3 linked regions of the Homo sapiens genome follow. Each later gene encodes a partner of the first gene's protein in a complex. Each region holds a gene or a part of one and is shown on either strand. Other genes may lie near its edges. The genes, in order: CALM2, IQSEC1 and RYR2.

Evidence for each region.
Region 2: the proteins of CALM2 (region 1) and IQSEC1 are in contact, whole or in part, in a crystal structure (PDB 7VMB), measured with the Homo sapiens proteins. Residues at the interface, in NP_001734.1 of Homo sapiens: Glu85, Ile86, Ala89, Phe90, Val92, Phe93, Lys95, Glu105, His108, Val109, Met110, Asn112, Leu113, Gly114, Glu115, Lys116, Leu117, Thr118, Glu121, Glu124, Met125, Arg127, Glu128, Phe142, Met145, Met146; in NP_055684.3 of Homo sapiens: Val121, Leu124, Glu125, Lys127, Tyr128, Gly129, Val133, Thr134, Arg135, Ala137, Ala138, Arg139, Thr140, Ile141, Gln142, Ala144, Phe145, Arg146, Tyr148, Gln149, Lys152.
Region 3: the proteins of CALM2 (region 1) and RYR2 are in contact, whole or in part, in a crystal structure (PDB 7KL5), measured with the Homo sapiens proteins. Residues at the interface, in NP_001734.1 of Homo sapiens: Glu12, Phe13, Ala16, Phe20, Leu33, Met37, Leu40, Gln42, Glu48, Asp51, Met52, Glu55, Met72, Met73, Lys76, Met77, Asp79, Thr80, Ala89, Val92, Phe93, Leu106, Val109, Met110, Asn112, Leu113, Glu115, Leu117, Met125, Ala129; in NP_001026.2 of Homo sapiens: Phe4246, Ala4247, Leu4248, Arg4249, Tyr4250, Asn4251, Ile4252, Leu4253, Thr4254, Leu4255, Met4256, Arg4257, Leu4259, Ser4260, Lys4262, Ser4263, Lys4266, Gln4267.

The regions. Positions count from the first base shown.
Region 1 is NC_000002.12:47,169,918-47,173,113, forward strand, and holds part of CALM2 (calmodulin-2), read right to left. Parts: exon of another isoform or gene 2,543-3,196; coding exon of another isoform or gene 2,497-2,542; exon of another isoform or gene 848-2,496; coding exon 817-847; intron 1-816. UniProt on the Homo sapiens protein: Calmodulin acts as part of a calcium signal transduction pathway by mediating the control of a large number of enzymes, ion channels, aquaporins and other proteins through calcium-binding. Calcium-binding is required for the activation of calmodulin.
Region 2 is NC_000003.12:12,933,813-12,937,462, forward strand, and holds part of IQSEC1 (IQ motif and SEC7 domain-containing protein 1), read right to left. Parts: intron 2,886-3,650; coding exon 1,636-2,885; intron 1-1,635. UniProt on the Homo sapiens protein: Guanine nucleotide exchange factor for ARF1 and ARF6. Guanine nucleotide exchange factor activity is enhanced by lipid binding. Accelerates GTP binding by ARFs of all three classes.
Region 3 is NC_000001.11:237,048,661-237,052,310, reverse strand, and holds part of RYR2 (ryanodine receptor 2), read right to left. Parts: intron 1-3,650. UniProt on the Homo sapiens protein: Cytosolic calcium-activated calcium channel that mediates the release of Ca(2+) from the sarcoplasmic reticulum into the cytosol and thereby plays a key role in triggering cardiac muscle contraction. Aberrant channel activation can lead to cardiac arrhythmia.

The sequences.
Region 1 (3,196 bases):
TAATGAAAACAAAGGAATAGTTTGCAAAGCATTTCAACACTACAATAAAAAAAAAAAACAACTCCGGCAAGGGGGGAAAAAAAAGTTTCCCCAACATTGACATTAACCAGCCATCTCAATGTACAAGGATAAATCAAAAGTATTAATGTTCTATGGCATGGCATAAAGAGAACATGACATCAGGTTTTATGTAATAATTTTGCATACTTCCATAGCAAACTAAAAGGGACAAGATTTAAGCGGCTTCATTTCAACAGCTGTCACTGTTTTTTAAGAGAAAAATCCACATTGCTACAGTGACATTTATAGAATAGAATGCCAACTTCTTAAATTTTTTCACTTGAGAAATGGTTATTCCCTGACTGATTATATATGCAATTCTTAGGTTAAAATGTTAGCTAATTTTAACTAGGGTAAATTCAATTGTTCCTTTTTTGATTCTCCATTTCAAGTTGCCTTAGTTACTTCTTGGCCTCCTTTTCTAGCGTGTTAGCTAGCCCAGAATTCCTGTTTTATACTAAGGTAGTCTTCAGAAAACAAAACAAAGACCACCACTACACCACAAGGCTCCAAAGTATATCCACGCAGACTAAAATACATGTCTTTAACTACAATTAGCCCTGCACATCTTCCATCGGCAAGTTTACAATCCCACTTGCCAAAGCAGGTTGAATTACTGTATTATATTATACCCATATGTTAGTATCCATGACATATACCAAAGTCAATTATTTCATACAAGTCTCTTATTCTGACGTTGGCTATTCAATTTATAATAAGAATCTAATGGGTACAATCTAGCTGAGTATTTCTCACCTGCAATCTGCTCTTCAGTCAGTTGGTCAGCCTACAAAGAGATCAAAGAGGAAGGTTAGTGACTTGAGAGTATGTAGATTAGCAGTTACAGAAACAAGTTTAAAACCTTTCAAGGGTTACCATGTACTGTTTCATTTAGTTCCAGCAACAAACACATCTGGATAGAAAATGCACACATCTAGTTTCTCTTATCTTCAAAGCTAAGCTGTCTTAACTCCAAGTTTAAGATATACAAATACTTCAGAATATTTTTGAAAATATACTTTAGAATCCAATAGAAACATTGCTTCCTTTTTCAACGTTAGAATAGCTAAACTTAAGCTCACTTCTATTCCAGATATAAATCACCAGAAATTCCCACTGAATCAAAATGCTTCAGGCTCACAAAATGAAAATTACTCCCACAAATGGTTAAACACATTGTTTTGAAATTAAAGTGATTAAAAAAAAAAAAAGGCACAAACTTTTATTCCTTCTCACCCAGCAGGCAAAATGCAAAGAATCCAGAGCTCTGAACTACAGTACTATAATATTTACCAAATGTTTGAAAGTTCAGCCATCCATTTTCTCTTGGTTTTTAAAATCCCAAAGTAAGCCCAAGGCTTGTGATGTTTTTTTAATAGCACTTGGTTTTCTTCAGAAAATATTTTCTGCCATTTGCTAAAACCCATTATAAATTTTATCCTTATTCAATCTTAATAATAACCTTACAGTGGTATTATCCCCTATCTTACAGATAAGGAATGAGGCTAGGGTTAAGTGGGATTGGGGCACAGAAAATTAGTAGAACAAAGATAAAGCACTAAGGTGTCAGACATACCCAGTAACTTTTAGCTTTTAATTCAGAGCACCGTAATATATAAAGATGATTGCAAAATATCCAGACTCCTTGTTGTATTCTTTGAACATGCACTTTCTTTCACTGCTTATTAGTATATACATCCATGAAGCAACTGCTTATGGGGTATTGAGAAGCACAGACAAGAAATAGCCTCCTATCTAAAATCCCTACCAACATGGGAGTCAAGTATACAATGATTAATCCATTCATTTATTTATAGGTAAAAGAAAAATAAACATTGCCTGGCTTCATTCTTTTTAAATGAACACACCCCTGGAAAAAGTAACACCTTAATGTGGAACACATTTTCTCTAGGGCACATGAGAAAATTCAAGAAGGAATCCAGAAAGCAGTTTATTTTCCCTGCTCAACAATTTTTGTTTGACCATGATGTAAATCAAATTCATTAAAAAAAAAAAAAAAAAAAAAAGCTGGTAACGTAAAATTGAAGAGCCAATAATTAAGTTCAAATACAGAGTTTGTAAAATAAAAAATGTATCCACTTTTATCCCTAAAGTCCAAATCCTCCGCCAACAAATATTTGGTGTGAAGTCAGTCACAGATTGTTTACCCAAGGAATAAGGTTTAAAATCCAGTAAATCTGAGTTATTTACTTTGTATTAATAGAAGCTACATTACTTCAGTTTATTGCATTTTGCAGGACTTCCACCATTTCTGAAAGGAAGGGCAACCTGGCATGCGTGGCGTGGGGGGAAAGCATCAAGTTCTGAGTCACAGGCCAGTATCCCAGCCCTGCCATTTAATAGCTGTGTGACCTTGGACGTGGTACTCCTCCTCTCAGTCAACTTCATTTGTAGCACAAGAATAACAATACTTACCTTGCAGGGTTGTTGTGCAAAGTGAGATGCTATGTACAAAGCTAACCTAAAGAGTTAAATGATAACCATTATTTCATATAAATTAACAAAGAACCTACAATGTTAAATATCAACCTGACTAGCTCAATTTCCACACCGAATGTAGACATGCATGGCATTTATTAAGCCCTTTATGGTAAGCTTACTCTATTCAATGTTAACTTTGTTTAAGCTGAGAAAATTTATGCAAACTAAATCCACAAGGTGCAACCCAGCGACAGATGCAGCGGACATCACTTTAAGGCTAAAAAAAAGTTGAGCTAAATGTGTGGCAGACACTGCAGCCTGTGTGAAAGTTGAAGGATCCCGTACTCTGTACAGGAAGGGAGACAGGTTCGTTCTCTCTACATGGGTTGGGGGGGGGGGGGGGGTGGGAAATGGGACTTTGGGAAGGCTACTATATATGAAACATGAGAAGCCTTAGGAAGAAACGAGGATGTTAGCAATTTAGGAACCACTGTCCAATTTTGCTTGGAAAGTCAAAATTTAGGGACCTCATACCATCTTGTCTAACTCCCTACCTCCAAGCAAATGCAATCTTGGAAGAGATCACAAAAATGAGCTTCAAGGAATGAATTAAGCACCCAAGAGACCAAATTACTCACATAACCTGAAAGCTCTCAATTTTGCTTGGAAGGTTGAGAAGCTTTTTGTATTACTT
Region 2 (3,650 bases), on another chromosome or scaffold:
GCTGCAAGGCATGCATTTTCTGTGAAGAATGTATTCACGTGCTACACAGATAATTAAAAGTTAACTGAATAAGAAAGAATCTACACAGACCAAAGCTGGCTGGTTGAGGGAGGTGGTTTTTCCTGGTTTCCTGTCTCCCCACTGCTGGCCTCCACCTGTCCACTCTGCAGGGACCCCTGGTTATCCCAGCCTCCCCTCTAGGGCACATGGGCCTGGGTCGAGAGATGATCCTGGAGCTCGGCTGTGCCCAGGAGCAGTGGGGACAGACTTCAGGGACCGTGTCAGGTGGGCCAGCAGGATGCAACCCTCCCCTGTCCAGCGCATTGCTCCGGCCGTGGCCTGTGCAGCAGTGAGAGCAGCCGTACTCTGCAGCAAGCCACAGGCAGATCACAGGCTCAGGAGAGAGCATCCTGGTAGATGTGAGATGTCCAAGACTCTTTGTTCTTAGCTGAGCAAACCAGTAAGCCATTGCCCCTTACTGGCCCCAAGTGAATGCACCATTCCCCAGAGGCTCTTCCTGAGACAGGCCTCTCTGACATCCCAAGATAGTGCTTCCATGTGTCCCAGGAATGGCTCAAAAGCACCATCTCCCCCAGTCTAGAAGAAGAGAGAACAGGGGGCAGACGGAGCAGGGAGCCAGCTCAGGCACTGGCTTTGAGGTGGCCAGGTCCCACTGCGCCATTCATCACCCTAGTTTGACCTCCTGGGAAAACTGTCGTCTGCCCCTGGCTCCCCGGATGTGTGTCAGGAACCACCAGCCCAGGGGAGTTGGTGCCAGGCCAGCATCTGATGAGGCCAAATCCCAGTAGCCCAGGGAGTGGAAATAACGAGAAATCTCAGGTTGGACAGGAGCCTGCACGTTCCCCAGGCCAAGTGCTCAGCCCTCCTCCCCTTCCTCTTGCTATTTTTGGCTGTGCTAAGAATAGTCTGCTTTAAATACCCATCGCTCCTTGGATCTGCTCTCAGGATGGTCAACGGCACCTTTCCAGGACCCCCTTGGGGAGCAGCTACTCCATGAACCCAACTCATGCATCTCCCCAAGACCCCCAGACACAGCCCTGGGTCTGGCCTGCATCTGTCTGAGTTCCTTCCATCCAGGACACGGTTCTGGGTCTGGCCAGCAACTGCCCCTGAGCACTCCTACCCCCAGACATGGCCTCAGGTCTGGCCTGCATCCCCCACAAGACACAGCCCTGGGTCTCGCCTGTCTGCCCCTGCCCCCCACTGACACAACCGGTCATACCCCTGCTCAAAGGCCTTTGTGTCCCACATCACCCCTAGGCCTGACATCCAAAGTTGCGCAGGGCATGGCCCAACATACCCCACTTGCTATGGCGGACTTGGGGGGGATGGGACGGAAGGGCCCGGGACTCAAGTTGCTTCGGCACAGAAAGCTCCCATTCTGCCCCTGCTCAGCCTGTGTGTGTTGCCATCCCCACCAGCAGTCCCAGGAGGGGCTAGGCCTCAGCGCACAGGCTGGCACCGTCCTAGCCACCGACCTTGTGTGGCAGCTTCCTATGCTCATAGGCCACGGTGGACCTCAAGCTCCGTGCTTGGAAGGATGCAGCCACGCCCACCCGCCAAGGCCCAGCAAGCCACAGCTGCCCACCCTGAGGGGTCACCCATGGTACTCACTTGTTGAAGAGGTTCAGGCCGATGCGGTAGTGCCTCTTGCGGATGACATCGTTGCTAAAGGCAGGCGAGTCCCAGCTGTTGCGGGCCTCCTTGTGGTAGGTCTGCTTGCTGAGCGTCTGCTCCCGCAGGCTGTCACGGGACGATGACTCGGAGCTGCAGTTGATGGTATCGTTGGAGTTGGACGTGCTGTTGATGCTGTCATTGTCACCGTCTGAGTAGTCCGACTCAGACTTGCTCTGCCGGTTGGCTGAGCCATTGATGGCCAAGTGGCTGTCCAGGGGCCTGGGGGGCCGGGGCCGCAACTCAGGCTCCTCCCGGGGGAGGCTCTTGGGGGCGCCGCTGTGGGGACCATGCTTGGGACTGCCCTGCTGCCCGCCAAGGCTGCGCTCGTAAGCACTCTGCCTCTTGAGTGACCCCCGCTCCGAGCGGTCACTAAGGTCCACAGAGCTGTCGCTGGGTGGCTCGATGGTGAGCAGCGGCAGATGCTCCACCCGCAGCCGCTGCTCCTGCCGCTCCAGCGACGGCGTGCTCCGGCAGCTCGTGTCCGTGTCAGCCTTGTCCTCTTTGTGGGCCAGGGCCCAGTAGTCTGGGGCTGCGCCCCCAGCCCGTAGCCGCAGGTCCGACTCGGTGCTGGACGGCCGGTCCCCTGCCTGCGAGAGGGGCAGAGGGGGCGACAGCTCCTCCTCATCGATGTACAGGGTGACATCACTGTACGAGGCCGTCATCTCGTCCAGTTTGCGGTGGTCCATGCCGTGCAGGGCTGTCTGGGGTTCGGTGTCCCGGGCCCGCGCCGCATCCAGGGCCGGTGCCTCCTCAGTGTGCAGGCTGCGGCAGTTGAGGGCATCGTCGATGGACTCGGCCAGTGATTTCACTTGCCTAGAGAAGGCGTCCTCCAGCTCGGTGATGGCGTCCGCAAAGTCACTGGAGGGGGCCGGAGACTTGAGGGTGGTGGGCTCGCTGAGGTCACCACACTCAGGGGACACCAGGGCTCCCAGCTGGGAGCCGTCGTTAGTCACTGAGACCTGCTTCCCCTCGAAGTAGGAGCTGTGCACTTTCTCAGGCCCCTCAAAGGAGAACTGCATCCTCATGTTGGACAGCACAATCCGGCGTGACATGCGGTTCTCTGACATGGAGCTGCGCAAGCGCTCGAAGTTCTTGTTCATCTGGTACTGGCGAAACGCCGTCTGGATGGTGCGGGCCGCATGGCGGGTTACCAGGCGCCCCCCATACTTTCGTTCTAGCATCTCCACCTGCGGGTGGGAGAGGAGAATGAGAACAGCACTGCATGTAGGCACAGTGCGACATTTACCAAACTCCTTCCCACTTCCTAGCCACGTGGCTGTGCGACCTGGGAAGGTCCCAAAGTTGGTCAAAGCAACTGCTGAGGGATGCTGGTGGGCTTATGCAAAATATGAGTCCCAAGGTCAAACTGGACAGAGAAGCACCAAGTTAAAATGAGTGCAACCATGTTTTTCCTCTCTCAGACCTCTTTTTTTTTTTTTTGAGACAGAATCTCGCTCTGTCACCTAGGCTGGAGTGCAATGGCACAATCTCGGTTCACTGCAACCTCCGCCTCCTGGGTTCAGACGATCCTCCTGCCTCAACCTCCCGAGTAGCTGGGATTACAGACACCCACCACCACGCCCAGCTAATTTTTGTATTTTTAGTAGAGATGGGGTTTCACCATGTTGGCCAGGCTGGTCTTGAACTCCTGACCTCAGGTGATCCACCCGCCTCGCCCTCCCAAAGTGCTGGGATTACAGGCGTGAGCCACCATGCAGGGCCTCAGAAACTTTAAAAGGCAGTGAGATACACTATGTTGAGTGTCCCCAGTGTCTTGGGTCACAGAAGCCCCTGGCCCTGGTGCATCTTGAGGTATGCCATCTAACGAAACCCATTTGGAGACCCTGGAAGAAGTATGCACAGTTCAAGAGATAGGCTAAAGATCCCAGCAAGGCCCACAGGCTTCTGGACTCATTTCCTTTCCACAGCATCAACCAGGCAGCTCTTGTGGC
Region 3 (3,650 bases), on another chromosome or scaffold:
CACCTTTTGGACCCTCTGAATTTTACACAGGACACAATCCCCCTAGAACCATAAGCTTACTGTTCCCAGGTTGATGCATATAAGGTTTCACTGTTTGAGCATCTGAACTCTACGGGAACTATGGCTTCCACCTTCATGGTATCTCTTAGGTACCTGGTATAATGCTACAGATAAAAGAGGTATCCCGTTCACACACACTGCATTAAGGTACCCTAGTAAACTGCATATAATTACCCTACTCTGTATTTATTATGTAAAATACTATCTCATGGAATCAGTTCGATGCAATTCCACAAACATTAAACACAGGACCTATGATGTGGCACACAGCCTGCAAGGCTCTGGTAATGTAAGAAATTCACATTTGATATTATAAAGTAACTTCCTGCAGGTAGAAGCAGGGCACCAAGTTTCCCTCTCATTTTAAAATATGTCCATCTCCAGCAGAAAGGGCCCCTGTATGGCAAGATTAAGTGAGAGTTCTAGAGCCAGCCTGCCCAGGTCTGAAACTGTCGCTCCACTGCCTGTGTCTGCAAACACTGGGCTCACTTCACTTCTTTGCAGGTAGCTACCTCTGAGGGATTTTCTAGGGATTTCATGAGAAAATACACATGCAATGCTTAGAACAGACCTGCCAGACAATTACATATCAATGCACCTACAAGAAATAAAGTTGCCAACAGCAGTAGGTAGGCCACGGCGTAAAAAAGCTCTGATCTCCTGACTAGAAATGGTTACTCCTCAGGCTGATGCTGTATTTAAGATCAGAGGAACTCCTCTCAGCCTGTGGGACTATTCAAATGTGCCTTAAGAATGCCCTGTACAACCTCAAAAAGACATGTGGACACCATTGTTCCTGAATGCTGAGATGGTACAGGTTTGTTGCTGGTCCTGCCACTATCAAAATAGCATCTCTCAAAAGTAACTCACTCATGAGCCCCGAGGAGAGAAGAGGAGAGAAGACGAGAGGGGAGGGGAGGGGAGGGGAGGGAGAGAGATAAAGAGAAAGAGAGAGAGAGAGAGAGAGAAGGGGAGGAGAGGGTAGGGAACGGGAAGGGGAGGGGAAGGGGAGGGAAAGGGGAGGAAGGGGGGGGAGAGAAAGGGAAAGGGAGGGAAGGGAAAAGGAGGGAAGGGGGAAGGGAGGGGAGGGAAAGGGAAAGACAAAGGGAAAGGAACCATAAAAATAAAAACCCCAAAGCACTGGAAGAAATAACAGAGATCAACAGACAATTCACTGCTACACATGAACTAATTTAACTGAATTCTACACCACAGTCAAAATTGGTGAAAAAAAATATGGTGGAATATCTTTCATTCATTTGTGCACACATGTGTGCGTGTGTGTGAGACCGAACTTTCCTCATGTAAAGTTTCTTTGATTATGAAATAAATATAAACTCTAGCAAAAGCTAGAAGAATTTAAATCATAATTGCTTTTATTTTGAAAACCAGAAACCTGCTGTGGAAAAGAAGAGAATACAACTTCTAGTGGCTATCACCTCAGTGTGCTGTTCGGCTTCATTTTAACAATATCCCAATTGACTCAAGACTAAGGATATCATTTTTCCTGTAAGCTTTCTTTTTCTTTTCTTGATCTTCTCAAAATGTATCATTTCAGTTTATATCTTTGGTTATGCATTAAATATGAGTGAAATTCATGGGTTCCCATGTACATTATGAATCAGATTCTAAACTCAGGAGGAAAGAGAAACAATTAAAACTTCATTAGAAGCAGAATAAATGTGCAAAAACTCTTAAAATACCAAAAATGTTAAAGGAAAAAAAGTGCTTGCCATAGTAGAAAAACAAATTGGCCACATTGAATTGTTCCTTCCTTCATGGTGATGAGATGTGTGGGCCTGTGCCTCTCCCTCAGTGACCACATGCGGGTTTCCCCTGCACACTAAGAACCACGTGTCCCAGGGAGCAAATGTGTCCTCGTTCCCGCCTCAGCCCTTCCCAGACTCAGGAAGGCCCTGCCAGCCTCTGAGTTCCTATACACTTTCTCCTGTTCCACTCGCTTTCTTCTGCATCTATCTTGGCTCCACAGCTAGATTTCAGGTTTTCTTCCAGTAAATTGGCAGATACTCATCATCGGTTGGTGGGTGGTAAGTACCTGCACCCAGCCATCCAGGGGAGGTCTCCCTGGGTTCACGTGTCAGTGGCTCCTCTCTCTCTGTCCCCTACTTGGGTAACGAACATGAAAGCAATTACGTGTAGGTCCTCTGAACACTCCGTCACTAACAGGGAATGCCTTGGACTTCCATTTCATTGCAGCAACACCACTACAGAACTTTTGCAATAGAAACCAGGAAATATACCTTCCACATGGGCTTTGAGGCTGACTGTAACATTCTGGGAAACCCCAGAAACATGGGCCACTTCTTCACCAGCCAGGGAGAAGGTAACTATGGAAGCCAGAGAAGTACTTCACGGCTGGGACAATAGAGAGGATTTGCAAACAAGCTCACTAGGAGTTCAGTTACTAAATGGATCCGAACCTAAGTAGTCCCTAAGAGGGCTACTGACATGAGAGAATTCTTCTCCTAGCTCCTTCTAAATGCCTGTCTGCAAGCTTCTCTTATTGTTAACATCTCCTCTTCCCTGAAAGAAAACCACCCATCATCAAGAATCCTGGCTCAAAGCTTGTTGTCAGCTTTCAGGGCCTGTAATCCACCAGGATGAGGATTTCCAGGGACCCCAGGATCATTCAAAGCTTTTCTTTCCAGTCCCAGGGTGAGATTTTGTTATGCTCATCCTGCAGAATGGTTTGAGTCTGGTTGACCCTAAGACTACGAACATGACAATGGAAATTACCGCAAGTCCCTCTGAGAAAACAACCTCCCCATTTTACCTCTCTCAAACAAATCTCTATCTGACCCCACCAGCCCCAAGGTCACACAACCATTTGTTGGCAGGGTCCTCATCCCAATGTTCTTCCCGTGATTAATAAAGAGGAAAGTAAGGGGATGAAACTGATCCACTGGACACTCTAACAGTGCCCCTGGAAGTCACCTCACCCCCTGACAGCTGCTCATTTGAAATACAGCTTCTGACTCTAAACCAGTATTTCTTTTGGGCAGCCCTAATCACTCAGACTCAATTAATCCTTAATTTATTCTCTTACTCTCCTTTGTTCATTTGCTCTAGTGACTGTAACTTCCCTCTCTCTAATTGCCTTCTCCGGGTGTCCCCTCCCACTGGACCTGGGAGCCACTGCGGCCTCCCAAAGCAGCAATCATCACCTGGCCTCTCTCACCCTACACACCTCCGGTGTCCTCATCTCAGAATTTCACCCACCAACACTCCTACTCTTCTGCTTCCAGAAGAGATCTTACCTCTATTCTTCCACCCCCACTATCTTTGCCTACTTCCTTCATAGCAGGTTCCTTCTTTCTGCATTTGGACGCATTCAAGTGATGTTCACATTAAACTTGTGGGCAGGAGGATCCTTTCTCTTGTCCCGATCTTCTCCTTGCCACAAGATTTCTCTCAAGTCTGTCCTTGTAGTTAACAGTGCACCAAGCATCATGGGAAACCGATGCCCAACACGGTCCCAACTCACCCACAGAGCATCAGGGTCAGAGCATTCTCTGACCATTGCTTGAGTTTCCCAATCAGTTCCATACATTTTATTAATTATTAGTGAT